Homo sapiens: one gene and its partner. The protein of the gene in region 1 purifies or fractionates together with the protein of each later gene. This does not show direct contact. Each region holds a gene or a part of one and is shown on either strand. Other genes may lie near its edges. The genes, in order: GTPBP6 and LRRC46.

Region 1 (2,782 bases):
CGACTCCTCCCGACAATAAATTATGGACCGGGTGTGGTGGCTCACGCCTGCAATCCCAGCACTTTGGGAGGTTGAGGCGGGTGGATCACTTCAGGTCAGGAGATCGAGACCACGGCGAAATCCCGTCTCTACTAAAAATATAAAAAATTAGCCAGGCATGGTGGCGGGTGCCTGTAGTCCCAGCTACTCAAGAGAGGCTGAGGCAGGAGAATGGCTGAACCCGGGAGGCGGAGCTTGCAGTGAGCTGAGATCGCGCCACTGCACTCCAGCCTGTGTGACAGAGCGAGACTCGTCTCAAAAAAAAAAAAAAAAAAAAAGTAAAACTTTCCTGGGATGAAATTATTTTTTTTGTTTTTACTTTTCTTCTTTAGAGACAGGGTCTCGCTCTGTCACCCAGACTGAACCGCAGTGGTATGATCTCGGCTCACTGCAGCCTCGACCTCCTGGGCTCAAGTGATCCTCCCACCTCAGCCTCCTGAGTAGCTGAGACCACAGACACGCACAACCAGGCCATGGCTAATTTTTGTACTTTCTGTAGAAACGGCCTCACTCTCTTGCCCAGGCTGGTCTCAAACTTCTGGGCTCAAGCCACCTCCCAAAGTGCCTCAGTTACAGGAAAAATATTATTTGTATTAAGTGCATCCAAACAAACAAAAAGTAGACGTGGATACCCCGGTAGTATAAGTTGGAGAATTACACACGGCTTTATTTTTTTTTCCCTGTGTTTTTCAAATTTTGTGTAAGGAGCCTGCCTGTAAGATTTTTTTTGAACGTGAGAAAAAAAGCATCCTTTAAAGAGGAAATAATTCCGCTGTTAAAAGACATTTCACAGGAGGATGAAGCCGCCCTAAAGCTTTGAATGAAGACCCCCTGGGTGGGTGGGTGGTGGTTGGGTGCTCATATATGGCACCCCCTTGCGTGTGGGTCTGGGGGTGCGGAGCTGCTGCCTGTGGCTTGGAAGGTTGGGTAAGTGCAGCCGGGTGGGCTCGCGTCCACTGTTGGTCTAGGAGCCCCCGTCCTGGGGTGTCCGAGGGGCCTGCACACAGGCGTACCTCCCATGCCCAGCCTGTCGTTGGGAGCTCGTGTGAGCCCCTCTCCTGGGCCTGTCTGCAAGCTTGGGGTCAGGGACCAGAGGCTCCGCAGCTCTGACCCCACGGCCCGGCCCACAGGATCTCATCTTGCACGTGAGGGACGTCAGCCACCCCGAGGCGGAGCTCCAGAAATGCAGCGTTCTGTCCACGCTGCGTGGCCTGCAGCTGCCCGCCCCGCTCCTGGACTCCATGGTGGAGGTTCACAACAAGGTGGACCTCGTGCCCGGGTGAGTCCGGCCCTGGGGTCCGCAAGCGTCTCCTTCCCCTGCACGCGCTGGAGCCGGGTGGGGAGATGCCCCGTCTCCTCGTGTGAACCGCAGCGGTGGCAGTCAGGACACAGGGAGTGGCCCCAGACTGTGCCCCGTGGGCAGTGGACTCCTGGGGACCCTGATTTCGTCCGGCCGCCCCGACGCTGAGCGGGGCCTGTGACATCCCCACCCTTGCAGGTACAGCCCCACGGAACCGAACGTCGTGCCCGTGTCTGCCCTGCGGGGCCACGGGCTCCAGGAGCTGAAAGCTGAGCTCGATGCGGCGGTTTTGAAGGCGACGGGGAGACAGATCCTCACTCTCCGTGTGAGGCTCGCAGGGGCGCAGCTCAGGTGAGCGGCCTGCAGGGGCAGGAGACGGGATGGTGCTTTGGATGCCTGTCTCTGGCTCTGAAACGGGCTCTTCGTGGGTGCACAAGGAGCTGTGAGATCCCCGAGAGCTTTAGGATGTACAGACGAGATGAATGGGTTTGCATCAAATGTACATTTGTGACTGTGCATACAAGAGGTGCCTAATCTGCGCTTGAGAGTCAAAATCTACATTTGTGACTGTGCATACAACAGGTGCCTAATCTGTGCTGACAGTCAAAATGTACATTTCTGACTGCATACAACGGGTGCCTAATCTGTGCTTGACAGTAAAAATACATTTCTGACTGCATACAACAGTTGCCTAATCTGTGCTTGACAGTCAAAATGTACATTTCTGACTGCATACAACAGGTGCCTAATCTGTGCTGACAGTCAAAATGTACATTTCTGACTGCATACAACAGGTGCCTAATCTGTGCTGACAGTCAAAATGTACATTTCTGACTGCATACAACAGGTGCCTAATCTGTGCTGACACTCAAAATATACATTTCTGACTGTGGATACAACAGGTGCCTAATTATGCTGACAGTGAAAATGTACATTTCTGACCATACAACAGGTGCCTAATCTGTGCTTGACAGCCAAAATGTACATTTCTGTGCATACAACAGGTGCCTAATCTGCACTGACAGTCAAAATGTACATTTCTGACTGCATACAACAGGTGCCTAATCTGTGCTGACAGTCAAAATGTACATTTCTGACTGCATACAACAGGTGCCTAATCTGTGCTTGACAGTAAAAATACATTTCTGACTGCATACAACAGTTGCCTAATCTGTGCTGACAAAATGTACATTTCTGACTGTGCATACAACAGGTGCCTAATGTGTGCTGACACTCAATGTACATTTCTGACTGTGGATACAACAGGTGCCTAATTATGCTGACAGTGAAAATGTACATTTCTGACCATACAACAGGTGCCTAATCTGTGCTTGACAGCCAAAATGTACATTTCTGTGCATACAACAGGTGCCTAATCTGCACTGACAGTCAAAATGTACATTTCTGACTGTGCATACAACAGGTGCCTAATCTGTGCTGACA
Region 2 (3,550 bases), on another chromosome or scaffold:
ACGAATGACATAGGGTCCTGAATTGAAAAACTAATTCCCTCAAAATAGATCCTGAACATGACCTGTGCTCCTTCCACTGTTCTTTAGGCACTTCTCTTGATCTAGAAGTTCTTTTTGGCATCTACTCTAAATCTTTCACGTTAAATAGCTCCAGCCCATTTCCTGTTTTGAAGAAGAGGAAACTATGAAGATTCCTGTACATCATTCAGATCCTACTTGAAGGCTGTTTGGTGGTGGTGGTGGTGGTTGGTTGATCTTCAGCCTTCCCCTGGTTGAGTATTCCCAGCTCGCTTCAACTTTCCCCATAGAAACTTTAACCGTCAAGTTCCTGTATGCTCATTGTTCTCTCTGTGTATGCAAGCCACCACCAAGGCCCTTTCCGTTTTCCTGGTGGCTTCTTAGTTTCCTTTTCTGATTCCCAGGTCACTCTTTGGTTGTGGAATCAGAAGAGTATACGTAGTCAGGTTTAGATACCCCAGGTTTACACCCTTAACCATCCACATGGGGAAAGAAAATCATCTTTCTTAAGGTAGTGGCAACCTGTTCAAGGAGTGGGGTGATCATTCCCAAAGTGCCAGATCTCCAGCTGCAGAGTAGACATGGTCTTGGGGCTTTGTCCCCGTAAAGGGCCCCTGACGCATCTGATCTCAGCTTGGTTTCCCCACTTCGGTTTCTTCTTGCAGAATAAGATCCAGCAAATTGAGAACCTGGCTTGCATCCCCTCCTTGCGGTATGTGGTGCCAGGGCTCAGGCAGGGGAAGAGGGGTTGGGGGAACCTAGCCATATCCCAAAGAACTGGTTCAGATTTCTCCAAGCCTGGGTCCTTGTCAGTCAAGGACCAGCAAGCCTAGATCTACTCCCTCACCCCAGAAGGCCATGTGTCCCCACTGGTCATCAGCTGCCTAGCCCAGGGGCCCCGGTGTCAGGTGCCCTCCTCTTTTCTTCCAGCTGTTCCATGATTCAGCTCTGCCTCTGTACCCCTTCCTTCCCCTACAGCTTCCTGTCTCTGGCAGGAAACCAAATCAGGCAGGTGGAAAACCTCCTCGACCTCCCATGCCTCCAGTTTCTGGACCTTTCTGAGAACCTGATAGAAACATTGAAGCTGGGTAGGAACCCACTCGCCCTGGCTCACCAAACACATCCCCTGTGGGGCCTGCCCTCCCCTCTGCACCCATCTGCCCATGCTTCTATTAGCCATGCCCCTGCAGGTCCACATTTCATCCTCAGGGAGTTCAAGGGGTTGTGCCTAGAGGTACTGGCTTTGGACTAGAAAGTGGGTATGAGAACCCCATTCCCATCGCTTCATGGTCTTTTGGCTAAGATCAAGTGAGAACCCCATTTCCTCTCTCTTTGCTGTGTGCAGATGAGTTCCCCCAGAGCCTTCTCATCCTCAACCTGTCTGGAAACAGCTGCACCAACCAGGATGGCTACCGGTAAGGAGTGGAGGGTGGGAAGAAAGGTCATGGCTGAGCTCTACCTGCTAACTCAGCCCAGACCCCTCTCAGCCTGCAAACCTGGGGTCCTGTCCATGACACCTTCTCCCCCACCTCCTACCTAGCTCATGAGCCACCACCCCTCCGGGTGTGAGTGCTGTGGTGCGTGTCTTTGCATCCTCCACGCCAGGGTGCCCTCCTGGGTAACCTCTGCTCCTTCTGCTCTGCAGCGAGCTGGTGACAGAAGCCCTGCCACTTCTCCTGGACCTGGACGGGCAGCCTGTGGTGGAGCGCTGGATTTCGGATGAGGAGGATGAAGCCTCAAGCGATGAGGAGTTCCCAGAGCTGAGTGGCCCATTCTGCTCAGAACGAGGTGACCCTGCTTTCCAAGGTTTTCAGCCTCCCCAGAGCCCACCTCTGCCCTGTGGGACATGAGGGAAGCTAAGGTGGCAGTGGCGTCCGGGGAGGGGAGCCCCAAGTTCAGATCAACATCTGGGCCAGAGCCAGGTGTCAGTCCTGGGCCCCAGCCTCAGGCTCCTTCCCACAAGGGACAAGGGGCCAGCCAGAGACTTCCCTGAGCCCAGGGACCCTCCTGCTGAGCCCAGGGCTCCACCCACCCTGTACCCTCCACCCCCGGCCCCTCCCAGGCTTCCTCAAGGAGCTGGAGCAGGAGCTGAGCAGGCACAGGGAGCACCGGCAACAGACGGCCCTGACAGAGCACCTGCTGAGGATGGAGATGCAGCCCACCCTCACCGACCTGCCCCTGCTACCTGGGGTGCCCATGGCTGGGGACAGCAGCCCTTCTGCCACTCCTGCGCAAGGGGAGGAGACAGTCCCTGAGGCCGTCTCCTCACCCCAGGCCTCCTCTCCCACCAAGAAACCATGCAGTCTGATTCCCAGGGGCCACCAAAGCTCTTTCTGGGGAAGGAAGGGGGCACGAGCAGCCACAGCCCCCAAGGCCTCTGTGGCTGAGGCCCCCAGCACAACCAAAACTACGGCCAAGAGAAGCAAGAAATGATTCTCTGTCAACCTTTCTCTACTAGTGGAGAGGAGTGGGGCCTGCCCCTCTTCTCAGACCTCTGACCTGTGACAGAAGCCCATCCCCAGTAAAGTGTCTCTAGGCCCTGAGTATGCTTTTCATGTCACTTGGGGTATCTCAGGGGAAGAAACCAGTGAAAGCTCCAGGAAACAAAATACAGAGCTCAGTGAGCCACCTGATTCTAAAGAGCGAGTCTGGAATCTTTCGGGAGCTACCCACAGGGCAGGCATGCCTCAGGCCCCCGCTGGCTTCCTGGCTCCCACTTGGGCAGGAAGCGGGCACCACCTCATGGAAGAGGCATGCCATCTCACTGCCACCCCTAGCGAGTGCCCTTCCCCGGTCCAAGCCAAGGACCAAGGAGCTGTGGTCCTAGTCATCCCCAACAGCAGCCAGCTCCTGTCCCCTCCCTGTCCTCCTGCCCAGTCCCCATCACTCACCCACTCATAGGAATGAGTACACAACCACAGGCCCCGCAGCCAGCCCACAGCTGCCTTTGGGCCTCACTTGGCTCTCCCACCCCCACTGGTCCTGGGATAAAGTTCACTGAAGAGAAAATAAAGCACATTTATTAAGGCAAAGGCCAAGCTGGCCGCTCAGAACATGGCCAAGGAGCGTGAAGGGATTGCTCCACTTTACCACCACTCAGGGCACCCAGGCCCCAGGGGTCCTGGGTCCACCCCAGGCCAGCAGAAGCTATGAAGCTTACGCATAAGCCTGGCTCTCCCTCTTCACGAAGGCCTGGAAGAGGCTGCCCAGCTCCCAGAGGGGTGGGGCCCACTCGCCGGCCAGCAGCCCCTGTGTGGCCTCGAGGCCTTCCTGCTCCAGATCCTGCTGTTTCTGCTGGAGCTGCTGCCCCCGATCCTGCCCCAAGGGAAAGCTGAGATGAGTCTGTCCGGGACAGGCTTCCCGCCAGGTGAAGGGGGGACTGTGTACCACCTCACACAAGCAGGAGAAAGGAGATACCCCCCGACATTCCCCAAAGGCAGTTGCTGGCTTTGAAGGGAGGAACTCCTCTCCCCAGCTCTGAAATCTCTTCCACTCCCTAGTTCCTTCATATTTCCAGAGTCCCACTGGGAGT

The links.
Region 2: the proteins of GTPBP6 (region 1) and LRRC46 purify together in Homo sapiens (co-immunoprecipitation; one large-scale study listed by IntAct). This does not show direct contact.

The regions. Positions count from the first base shown.
Region 1 is NC_000023.11:306,268-309,049, reverse strand, and holds part of GTPBP6 (putative GTP-binding protein 6), read left to right. Parts: intron 1-1,169; coding exon 1,170-1,318; intron 1,319-1,537; coding exon 1,538-1,690; intron 1,691-2,782.
Region 2 is NC_000017.11:47,834,670-47,838,219, forward strand, and holds the end of LRRC46 (leucine-rich repeat-containing protein 46), read left to right. Parts: intron 1-683; coding exon 684-730; intron 731-996; coding exon 997-1,106; intron 1,107-1,363; coding exon 1,364-1,433; intron 1,434-1,663; coding exon 1,664-1,806; intron 1,807-2,080; coding exon 2,081-2,451; 3' UTR 2,452-3,050; downstream 3,051-3,550. Other genes in the region: SCRN2 (secernin-2), read right to left, coding at 3,175-3,333. UniProt on the Homo sapiens protein: Required for normal spermatogenesis and male fertility. Plays an important role in sperm flagellum biogenesis.